Homo sapiens: one gene and its partners. The protein of the gene in region 1 purifies or fractionates together with the protein of each later gene. This does not show direct contact. Each region holds a gene or a part of one and is shown in the gene's direction. Other genes may lie near its edges. The genes, in order: SERPINF2, RNASEH1 and DAPP1.

Region 1 (4,274 bases):
AGGCGCAGGACAGTGAGGGTGGGAAGGAGCCTGATGCAGGGAGTGAGGAGCAGGACAGTGAAGGTGGGAAGGAGCCTGATGCAGGGAGTGAGGAGCCGGACAGTGAGGGTGGGAAGGAGCCTGATGCAGGGAGTGAGGAGCTGGACAGTGAGGATGGGAAGGAGCCTGATGCAGGGAGTGAGGAGCAGGACAGTGAGGGTGGGAAGTGGCCTGATGCAGGGAGTGAGGCGCAGGACAGTGAGGGTGGGAAGGAGCCTGATGCAGGGAGTGAGGAGCAGGACAGTGAGGGTGGGAGGCGGCCTGATGCAGGGAGTGAGGAGCCGGACAGTGAGGGTGGGAGGCGGCCTGATGCAGGGAGTGAGGAGCAGGACAGTGAGGGTGGGAAGTGGCCCGATGCAGGGAGTGAGGCGCAGGACAGTGAGGGTGGGAAGGAGCCTGATGCAGGGAGTGAGGAGCCGGACAGTGAGGGTGGGAAGGAGCCTGATGCAGGGAGTGAGGAGCCGGACAGTGAGGGTGGGAAGGAGCCTGATGCAGGGAGTGAGGAGCAGGTGTGAGGGCGGGAAGCGGCCTGATGCAGGGAGTGAGGAGCAGGACAGTGAGGGTGGGAAGGGGCCTGATACAGGGAGTGAGGAGCAGGACAGTGAGGGTGGGAAGGAGCCTGATGCAGGGAGTGAGGAGCCGGACAGTGAGGGTGGGAAGCAGCCTGATCTTTGCACGGGCTGCCAGGCTTCTGGTTCATACAGCCCCAGGTCAGTTTCCAGAACCCTCGCTCTTGGGTAGGGGAAAGAGACATTGCTCTGGAGTGGCAGGACGGTGGGAGAAGTTGAGTCCCTCTCATTTCTCCTCCCTCACCCCCTGCCTTCCATCCCAGTCTGAAGGCAGCCAACCTGATCCTGGGCTTGGAAGGTTGGGGGTGGGCTTCCTATCCTGGGCTCTCTGCATAGGCTCTTGTGGCTTCCCCTTTCCTCCCCTCAGGAGCGGGAGGCAGCTCTCTGGGAGAAGAAAGGACATTGGGAGTGAGAATCTGGATGTGCCTCAGCCCAGCTCTGTGTCCTTGGGCAGGTCACATGGCCTCTCTGAGCCTGGCTGAACCAGGGATAATCCACACCTCGTGGGGTCTCTGGAAGGCTTAACACAGTGCTAGGTTCCTGTGCTTTCTGGATCCGCCCTCTTGGCTAGCCAGATCCAGTCTCTTCAACTCTCTCCTCCTGAACTTTCTCTTTCCAGGCTCGGGGGGGGGGACCCAAATATAGGGGGTTCTGCGTGGCTGCCTCAGGGTTAGATGCCCTGGTGGGAAAGGGGCTTCTGGCTTCAAGATCAATGTTTAACTGGATGTGCAAGTCAATATTTACCAGAAGAGAAAGCAATCTGAACAGGGGTTGGCTGAGAGTAAAGGTCCTGGTGGGAGGGGAGGGGTGGGCTGGGCCAGCTGGAGCCTGGGCAGAGAGTGAGGAGCACCCAAGTGGGGCCAGAGGAACGTTGTGTGTGGCAGCAAGGAGCCCGCAGAGGTATGAGGGGAGGGGCTGCTCGGCCTGCTCCTTGGGTAGGAGAGGAGGAGGGAGCTGCCTCCCTGGCTGAGGGGTCTGGGATTTATTCAGGAGGCCTGTCACTCCCCAGCCTCTTCTGGGACTTGAAAAACTGGAGCCTGTTCTTGGCAAGAAGATTCTAATGCCCAGGTCGGAGTCGGGGCCCTGGCCAAGGGCTCTTGTGTGGGATGGGGGTGGGGCCGGGGGGACCAAAGGATCCTCCAGAAGGGTTGGCCCCAAGATGGGGGTGGGCTGGAGGTAGCTGAGACCTGCTCTGACTTATCCTCCTGAGACCAACACCTGCCCTTCCCAGAGCCAGCCTGGAGCAGAGGCCTGTGATGCTCCTAAGTGCAGAGGTGGCTCTGGCCAGAGTCATTCACTGGGCTCTGCTGCTGGGTCAAAAGGCAGCTCTCTGGCTGCCTTGCCACCCATGGTGAGACCTCAGGGCCTCACAGGTATGTCCAGCCTTGTGGGCAAGACCTGACCAGCCTGAGAAAGACGGGTTGGGGCCAGGCGTGGTGGCTCATGCCTGTCATCCCAGCACTTTGGGAGGCTGAGGCAGGTGGATCACCTGAGGTCAGGAGTTCGAGACCAGCCTGACCAACATGGAGAAACCCTGTCTCTACTAAAAATACAAAATTAGCCAGGCATGGTGGCACATGCCTGTAATCCCAGCTACTCGGGAGGCTGAGGCAGGAGAATCGCTTTAACCCAGGAGGTGGAGGTTGCAGTGAGCCGAGATCGTGCCATTGCACTCCAGCCTGCATGATAAGAATGAAACTCCATCTCAAAAAAAAAAAAAAAAAAAAAAAAGACAGGCTAAATGGATGCAGCAGGCTGGGTAGGAGCTCTGTGTTGGAGCTCTGCGGTGGAGGCTTCAGGGCAGGCTTCCCAGAAGAGGTGGCCTTGAGCCAAGCTGACCCCAGCCATCGGGGGAGTGCCAAGCATTGTACTCAGGGTTTACAAAGATGGTCTTATTTATTTTTTTGAGACAGAGTCTTGCTCTGTCGCCCAGGCTGGAGTGCAGTGGCGTGATCTCGGCTCACTGCAACCTCCGCCTCCCGGGTTCAAGCAGTTCTCTGCCTCAGCCTCCCGAGTAGCTGGGATTACAGGGGCCCACCACCACGCCTGGCTAATTTTGTATTTTCAGTAGAGATGGGGTTTTACCATGTTGGCCAGGCTGGTCTTGAACTCCCGACCTCAGGTGATCCACCTGCCCCTGGCCTCCCAAAGTGCTGGGATTACAGGCTTGAGCCACCGTGCCTGGCCACAAAGATGGTCTTTTGCCGGGTGCAGTGGCTCATGCCTGTAATCCCAGTACTTTGGGAGGCCGAGGCAGGAGGATCACCTGAGGTCGGGAGTTTAAGACCAGCCTGACTAACACAGAGAAACCCCGTTTCTACTAAGAAATACAGAATTAGCCAGGCGTGGTGGTGCATGCCTGTAATCCCAGCTATTCGGGAGGCTGAAGCAGGAGAATCGCTTGAACCTGGGAGGTGGAGGTTGCGGTGAGCCGAGATCCTGCCACTGCACTCCAGCCTGGTCAACGAGAGCGAAACTCCGTCTCAAAAAATAAACAACAAAAAATCCCAAAAAGACGGTCTTATTTTGGTCCTCACCATGCATGTGAGAAGAGTGAGGGACTTGTGCCACCGTTTTACAAGGTAAGGCCAAGCCTGGTGGAGTTACGGGAAATGCCGAGGTCCTTTGGCAAGAGGTAGCCTGGATTCAGACACAGATCTGATTCACAGCGCAGGGCCTTGTAGAATGAGAACGTTTTTGATTTGGTATCTCCCTCCTATTCACCAAAACACCCTCAGTGCATGAAATGCATGAAATATGAAACACCAGAAACTAAAAAGGGGGAGAAGCCAGGGCGGATGTCCCAGCTGCAGGAGTGGGAGCCGCTGCTCGTGTGTTTGGGGTCTGTTCTGATTCTGGAGCCTGCTTCTTCCCCTTGGCAATCATGACCCAGGACTTGGCGTTATCTGTGATCGCGTGGGTAGGATTCCCTGGCGGGCGTGGGGATGTGAGATGGGAACAGAGCTTTCTGTCCCTGCCACAGGAACATGGCGCTGCTCTGGGGGCTCCTGGTGCTCAGCTGGTCCTGCCTGCAAGGCCCCTGCTCCGTGGTGAGGCTGGGCTGAAGTCAAGGTGGGGTGGGGTGGAGGGGGAAGAAGAGGGGCGTTGGCATGGAGGGAGGGCTTGGCTCCGAGGGGACCTCCTATCCTCATCCCTTTCTCCACAGTTCTCCCCTGTGAGCGCCATGGAGCCCTTGGGCCGGCAGGTACTGGGGAGTGAGGAGCCTGTGATGGGGGGAAGGTCCCGGGGGTCTCACTGGTGGCTTGGGCAGGGTGGGGGGCCTGTGGGAAGGGTCGGTCTCCATCTGCTTGCTCCTTTCCGCAGCTAACTAGCGGGCCGAACCAGGAGCAGGTGTCCCCACTTACCCTCCTCAAGTTGGGCAACCAGGTACAACCAGGTGGGGCTGGGGAAGAGTGGGCGGGGCTAGAGGGAGGAGGGCCCATCGGCAGGGGTCGGGGGGTGGGGGCGCGTGCTGAGGCTGAGGCTCTGGAGTCCAGAGGCCAGAAGGGAGAGAGGGTGGGGAGGACCGAAGGTGGGCGCCAGGCCCCAGAATGCCAGTGCCCTCCGTCTGACGCTCCCTCTTCCCTGGGGCTGGGACAAGGCCCTGCTGTCCTCAGGCACAGGGGCTGTGACAAGGCCTTCAACACAGAACCTGGAGCTGACCCC
Region 2 (3,645 bases), on another chromosome or scaffold:
GATGCAGTCAGAAGTGGAAGTGGCTCTTACTTCTAGTCTGTGTGTGTATAAGTCACTTAAGATGGCGTGTTGACTGCTTCTTTGGGAAATGCCCTGAATAGGAGCATGTAGGGGATGCTTACGAGGCTGGGGAAGGCTCCTGGGAGAAATGACATCTTAAGCTGACAGCTGTAGGTAGAATACAAGTTAGGGGAAAGGGAAGAGAGGAGGGTATTTCAGGCTGTGCCAAAGGCCAAAGCAACTAAGGCCAGCTAAGGAAGTGAAGAGTCAAGGATGGTGACTCAGAATACAAGTGGGATCAATTATAAGAGGTAAGACTAAGGAGGTGAAAAAGGCAGGACACTCAAGATTGACTCACCAGTGATCGTGCATTTTTGTAGGTATAACTAACTGGGTTCAAGGTTGGAAGAAAAATGGGTGGAAGACAAGTGCAGGGAAAGAGGTGATCAACAAAGAGGACTTTGTGGCACTGGAGAGGCTTACCCAGGGGATGGACATTCAGTGGGTGAGTATCTTAAATGTTCATGTCCTATGGCCATTATGACCAAATAAGCTAAGTTTACTAGAGATTAATGGTTTATGTAAGTGGTTTAATGACATAACAATTTCCATGATATTAATATCATAATGTATATTACAACGTATTTGAGGCTGGGCGTAGTGGCTCACGCCTATAATCCCAGCACTTTGGGAGGCTGAGGTGGGTGGATCACGAGGTCAGGAGTTCAAGACCAGCCTGGCCAGTATGGTGAAACCCCATCTTTATTAAAAAATACAAAAATTAGCCGGGCATGGTGGTGTGTGCCTGTAGTCCCAGCTACTCAGGAGGCTGAGGCAGGAGAATCACTTGAACCCAGGAGGCGGAAGTTGCAGTGAGCTGAGATCGCGCCACTGCACTCCAGCCTGAGCAACGATATGAGACTCCAAGACCCCGTCTCAAAAAAAAAAAAAAAATATGTGAGCCTGGGCTCAGTGGTTCACATCTGTAACCCAGCACTTTAGGAGGCCCAAATGGCCTGACTACTTAAGCCAAGAAGTTCGAGACCAGCCTGGATAACATGGGGAGACTCTGTTTCTCGAAAAAATAAAAAATTAGCCAGGGGTAGTGGCACATGCCTGTAGTCTAGTTACTCAGGACACTGAGGTGGGAGGATGACTTGAGCTGGGGAGGTCGAGGTTGCAGTGAGCCAAGATTGTACCACTGTACTCTAGCCTGGGCGACAGAGTGAGACCCTGTCTCAGAAAAACAAAACAAACCCACCCACATACACAAATTTGATTATTTTCCTTATCATACAAGTAATACAGTTTTTTGGTTTGGTTTTTGAGACAGGTCTCACTCTGTCACCCCAGGCTATGGCGTGATCTCATTGCAACCTCTGCCTTCTGGGTTCAAGTGATTCTCGTGCCTCAGCCTCCCAAGTATCTGGGATTACAGGCATATGCCACCACGCCTGGCTAATTTTTGTATTTTTAGTAGCGATGGAGTTTTGTCATGTTACCCAGGCTGGTCTTGAACTCTTGATCTCAAACATTCCACCTGCCTTGGCCTCTCAAAGTGCTGGGATTACATTTGTTTTGTGTCACTTCCTATATGTTTTTGTTTTATGACAAAAAGGTTTACAACTAAATCAATAATCATGTCAAACTTTTTTTTATTGTTTTGAGATGGAGTCTCGCACTGTTGCCCAGGCTGGAGTGCAGTGGCGCAATCTCGGCTCGCTGCAACCACAAGTAATACAATTCTAGTGAGAGTGTCACTAGGCATAGAATACACAGGCAGTGTGGTTTGAGGGATGTTCTACAATCCTTATATTTTGTTAAGAACACGAAGTAACACCCAACCTGGGCACATGGCATTACTATGACAGCTGTATGTCACCCTGTTCATTTCTTTGGAATGCATCATAATGTTAAATAAAACTATCAGTGTATTTTGTTTCAAACAATAGTAAGGTTGTATGATTAAAGCCTTGGTAATAGAACTTTTATTCCAAGATGGAAGCACTTTTTAAAATCATAGATCATGTTTATTAAAAAGTTTTTTTCAAGCAATAGAGAACAAATTACACTGCAGCCACTGTCTCAACCCTGCCTTGTTCTGCCTTCCTGGAACCACTGATAATAGTTTGGTAGCCTGATGTGTAAATTTGCTTTGGCAACATAAATGTAAACAGTGGTTAAATAAGTACATTATTTCTGACAGCACTGCAAGGGAAGCGTGTGTGTGTGTTGCATACATATCCGTCCACCCATCTGTACATACATGTGTTTTGCCTGGAAAGCTTATCAAGTCCCATTGATAAGTGGGGAGGAAATAGCAACATGAACGGTAAAATCCAATTTGTGAAAAAACAAAATGGAATGTTCGTAAATCACATCCATTGCGTAAACGCATGAAGAATGGACAGCGTGCTGTTGAGGATCATGTCTGGGGAGAGGAGCGTTGAAGTTGAGCTTATGCTGTGCAGTCTGTTCTGAATGGTTTTTTATGATGACAATATAGTCATGTGTTGCTTATGTAAAGATGAGTAAAAATAAAAGGAAAACATTTATCTTAACAGATGCATGTTCCTGGTCATTCGGGATTTATAGGCAATGAAGAAGCTGACAGATTAGCCAGAGAAGGAGCTAAACAATCGGAAGACTGAGCCATGTGACTTTAGTCCTTGGGAGAACTTGAGCCAGCGGCTGTCTTGCTGCCTGTACTTACTGGTGTGGAAAATAGCCTGCAGGTAGGACCATTGCAGTGATGGGCAGATGCGTCTTTCACACGGAATCAGGCACAGTGGCCTTCTGTGACATGTGTTTATAAAAAATGGTTAAGTATATAATAAATTGAACATCTTTGAGATTGGAGAATTATGTGAGATTTCCACATTATGTTTACTGGGTTCAATACTGTCCTTGCTTGTTTTATTGCAGGCAAGCAAGGCAAATGGCCTAAAATGCTGTGGCTTATATTTTGATAAGAAATCAAAAAACCATTGGTTAAAAGATGCAACTCAGAAGTCTGGAAGTATTCTGAAAGCATCCATTTACCGTCCAGTTGACAGGTTTGAGTCTCCTGCTTGTATAGGTGACTTGTGCCCATGGGTACATTAAAGGAACATGCTGCCCAGGGCCTGGGCGGACAGCTCAGTGGGCAGGATGTGTGCTGGGTCTCAGCCCCATGTGCCTGCTTGCTGGGCAGTTAGTATAGGGCAAAGCCTGCCTGCGGCGACCCTGGCTGCTAGGCCATTCTCTAGGAACAGCTGCGACTCATAAAGACCAAGAAGCATAAATAAACTTTCAAAAATTTATTTGGCTCTTTCGTTAAAAACTGTGCAAATTAAAAAAAAAAAAAAAAAAGTAAGACACCGGCTGGGCACAGTGGCTCACTTCTGTAATCCTAGCACTTTGGGAGGCCAAGGCGGGCAGATCACTTGAGGTCAGGAGTTTGAGACCAGCTTGGCCAACATGACGAAACCCTGTCTCTACTAAAATTACAAAAATTATCCAGGTGTGGTGGCACGGGCTTGTAGTCCCAGCTACTTGGGAGGCTGAGGCACAAGAATCACTTGAACCCAGGCGGCAGAGGTTGCAGTGAGCCAAGATTGCACCACTGCACTCCATCCTGGGCAACAGAGTGAGACTCTGTCTCAA
Region 3 (3,645 bases), on another chromosome or scaffold:
AACTTGGACCTTGGAGGCAAAGTATTAAGAGTCTGTGGTAGCGACAGTAGATAAGTTTGTTTGTTTGTTTGTTTGTTTGTTTGTTTTGAGACAGAGTCTCACTCTGTTGCCAGGCTGGAGTACAGTGGCGCCATCTCGGCTCACTGCAACCTCTGACTCCCTGGTTCAAGCGATTCTCCTGTCTCAGCCTCCCGAGTAGCTGGGATTACAGGCATGCGCCACCATGCCCGGCTAATTTTTGTATTTGTAGTAGAGACGGGGTTTCATCATGTTGGCCAGGATGGTCTTGATCTCCTGACCTCATGATCCGCCCCCTCGGCCTCCAAAAGTGCTGGGATTACAGGCATGAGCCACCGCGCCCGGCTGATAAGTTTCTTTTGATTGGAAATGACAGAAACCAGCTCTGGCTAGCTGGGTTTTTTTGGTCTTGTTTTTGATTTTGTTTTTAAGTGAGTAGGGTACAAGAACAGGGAACAGGAGCAGAATTTTTTTTTTTTTTTGTGATGGGGTCTCACTCTGTTGCCCAGGCTGGAGTGCAGTGGCACGATCTCGGCTCACTGCAACCTCCGCCTCCCGGGTTAAAGGGATTCTCCTGCTTCAGCCTCCCAAGTAGCTGGGACTACAGACGCATGCCACCACGCCTGGCTAATTTTTGTATTTTTTTTAGTAAAGACGGGGTTTCACCGTGTTAGCCAGGATGGTCTCCATCTCCTGACCTTGTGATCCGTATGCCTCGGCCTCCCAAAGTGCTGGGATTACAGGCATGGGCCACCGCGCCCTGCCCAGGAGCAGAATTTTTTAAAAGGATATTAACAATATACCCTCCCAGAATTTAAGGGCAAGTTGAACAACCAAGAGACAACAAGGAATCTGCTTAGTAATCATGGCAAGTCTGAGGCTTTCAGTCAATTGATGTGTCTGTCTTGATTCATCTCTGATCGTCTCAGAAGTGTACCTCCGCTCAGCCTTTCTGAAACCAGGTTTCATGTCAAAGGCAGGAAACAATAGTCTACTTCATGTAGTTCAGAAATTGAGTTGGTGGACCTTCTCTCTAGAGAAGCAATTAAGTGGATCCCCAAGAAGTGAATCCAATTAGTGTGACCAGGTCAGGTATTCGAGGGCCGGGCCAGGTCTGGAGGTATAACATGGTTATAGGGAACCTATCTCTGTATACTGGGAGGTACAATCTCTGCAGAAGGGGAAATCATTAAGCCTCACAGCCATGCCAAGAAGTCTGTATATTGGCTCTTCCTTGGGCAAGAATAGTCATCTAAGGAGAACTGTCTTTTAGGACACCAGATTTTTATCAGTATAAGTTGCCGTTTTATAAGTACTTTGTCATCTTCATCTCACAATTTAGTTTAGCCTCATTTGTGGGGTTACTAGTTAAAATCAATCTACAGTCAGTTTTACTCTCTTGGTTGACTCAATGCCATTTTCCTTTGTTTTACTTTTGTTGAATTAAACTTTAGAGGAGGTTTTCAAAATAGAATTTGGGTTCCTCCAACAGAGATTTGAAAAGTTATGCCTGCGGTTATTGTCCTTTCTTGCCTCAGGCCTGGAGAATTGTGGACCTGGGAGGCTGGTTCATCCCAGGTTCTTTCTTGGTTCAAGCCTGCATTACTGTAGCATTCATTCATTAATTCATTCACTCATCTGCCTTCATTATGTCAGAAACTCTATCAAGTGGTAGGGATACAAAGATAAATTTGACTGATAGGTGCGCTGAAGAGGCTCACAGAGGTTGGAAATGCACACGTTGGAAAGGCAGTGGCTGTCTAATACCAAGAGGTGACAGCACTGCAGGCTCAGGCAGCAGCCCAGCCCAGAGATCCTTACCCTGCAGCGCAACTGGCCCCGGTGGCTATTTCTCCTCCAGGGACTGATACTGTGGTAGGAGGATAATGCCCCCACAGGACGTCCACATGTCTCCCTGGACCTGTGAATATATTGTTACATGGCAAGAGGGAATTAAGTTTGCAGATGGAATTAAGGCAGCTGATCAAATAACTTTGGGGTGGGGAGATTATCCTAGATGGTCTAAGTAAGACCACTGTAATTGACAGGGTCCTCATAAGTAGTAGGGAGCCAGAAGGGAGAGAACCAGAAAGATGGCAGCAGGAGAAGGATCTGACTGGCTGTTACTGGCTTTGAAGACAGAGGAAAATGGCCACAAGTCAAGACATGAGGGCACCTCTGAAAGCTGGAAAATGCAAAGGAATGAATCCTCCCTAGAGCCTCCACTAGGAAAGCAGCCTTGCCAGTTTTAGACTAGTGAGACCCATTTCGAACTTCTGACTTCCAGAATTGTAAGATGATAAATCTGAGTTGTTTTAAGCTGTTATGTTTGTGGCAATTTGCTACAATAGCAATAAAAAATTAGGCCAGGCACAGTGGCTCACGCCTGTAATCCCAACACTTTGGGAGGCCGAGGCGGGTGGATCACCTGAGGTCACGAGTTCGAGACCAGTCTGGCCAACATGACGAAACCCCGTCTCTACTGAAAATACGAAAATTGGCCCGGTGTGGTGGTGGATGCCTGTATTCCCAGCTACTTGGGAGGCAGAGGCAGGAGAATCGCTTGAACCTGGGAGGCAGACGTTGCAGTGAGCTGAGATCGTGACATTGCACTCCAGCCTGGGTGACAGAGCAAGACTCCGCCTCAAAAAAAAAAAATTAACACAGGTATTATTATGTGAAGTGTGTGCCTGGTCGTATCAACTAAGTACATCTTTCTGGAGTGTCATTTAAAGCATTATTTTCATATTAAGTATTAAATATATGAAGTAGAATGAAAATTAAGCATCAACTTTGAAGATAAAGTATAAGAGTTCAAAATGTATCTAATTTGGGAGCTGCTTTGATCCCTAGGCTTCAGTTCCCCTCTCCTCTTCTGTAAGGTGAAAGTGTTTGAGAGGCACCAATTTAACTATAGTTAATCACAAGTAGTGATTACTAGACTACCACCATTTTTATTCCTAGCAGAATGTTGCGTCTAGGTCTTTTTTAAGATTTCAAAATCCATGTCCCCAAAGATGCAATCATTCAAATTTTATTTAAGGATTTAAAAATATTCTGTCAAAGAATAATAATATCTAATATGTTATCATTCTCCCACAAACATTTATTTGGTGCCTTCTGAAGGAAGCATAATTATTCTCACTAGTAAGGAGCAGAAGCTTGTAATGGTTGTCCAAGGCCGATAAGTACTGAATGGCGGTAGTGACAATTGAACCCTGTTCCTCTGCCTGTGCATCCAGTGCTCTTTCCAAGGGTCCAGAGTGACTATGAAGCACATCACTGGGAGTGTTTCTTAGGGTTGGGAGCCAGCGCTGAATTTACCATGCATCTACAATGTGAGCACTGTGTTCACAGAGCCCCTGAGCCTGCACAGCAGCTACTCTTGATATAGGTACTGCTGCTTTCATTCTGACTGTAAAACTGTAGCCGGCCCCTTCTCCTCATATGACTGGATCTGTTCTTATGGGAAGATCACATTGACAAAAGAGAGCACAATGTGCAAGAATGGGACGGTTCTGATAATGGCAAAATCTGTTTTTCATTGTGATCCCAATGCTGCAATGCCAATGAGAGACAGAAAGAGGAAGGGCCAGAGGCTTTCATTCTTCTCTGAGGTCGAGATCA

Evidence for each region.
Region 2: the proteins of SERPINF2 (region 1) and RNASEH1 purify together in Homo sapiens (affinity purification with mass spectrometry; one large-scale study listed by BioGRID and IntAct). This does not show direct contact.
Region 3: the proteins of SERPINF2 (region 1) and DAPP1 purify together in Homo sapiens (affinity purification with mass spectrometry; one large-scale study listed by BioGRID and IntAct). This does not show direct contact.

What each region holds. Positions count from the first base shown.
Region 1 is NC_000017.11:1,741,401-1,745,674, forward strand, and holds the start of SERPINF2 (alpha-2-antiplasmin isoform a precursor), read left to right. Parts: upstream 1-1,470; 5' UTR 1,471-1,508; intron 1,509-1,598; exon of another isoform or gene 1,599-1,668; coding exon of another isoform or gene 1,669-1,676; intron 1,677-2,933; exon of another isoform or gene 2,934-3,146; coding exon of another isoform or gene 3,147-3,190; intron 3,191-3,591; coding exon of another isoform or gene 3,592-3,595; coding exon 3,596-3,658; intron 3,659-3,774; coding exon 3,775-3,813; intron 3,814-3,932; coding exon 3,933-3,995; coding exon of another isoform or gene 3,996-4,005; intron 4,006-4,274.
Region 2 is NC_000002.12:3,544,791-3,548,435, reverse strand, and holds part of RNASEH1 (ribonuclease H1 isoform 1 precursor), read left to right. Parts: intron 1-380; coding exon 381-505; intron 506-2,544; coding exon of another isoform or gene 2,545-2,564; coding exon 2,565-2,651; 3' UTR 2,652-3,645. UniProt on the Homo sapiens protein: Endonuclease that specifically degrades the RNA of RNA-DNA hybrids.
Region 3 is NC_000004.12:99,847,746-99,851,390, forward strand, and holds part of DAPP1 (dual adapter for phosphotyrosine and 3-phosphotyrosine and 3-phosphoinositide), read left to right. Parts: intron 1-3,645. UniProt on the Homo sapiens protein: May act as a B-cell-associated adapter that regulates B-cell antigen receptor (BCR)-signaling downstream of PI3K.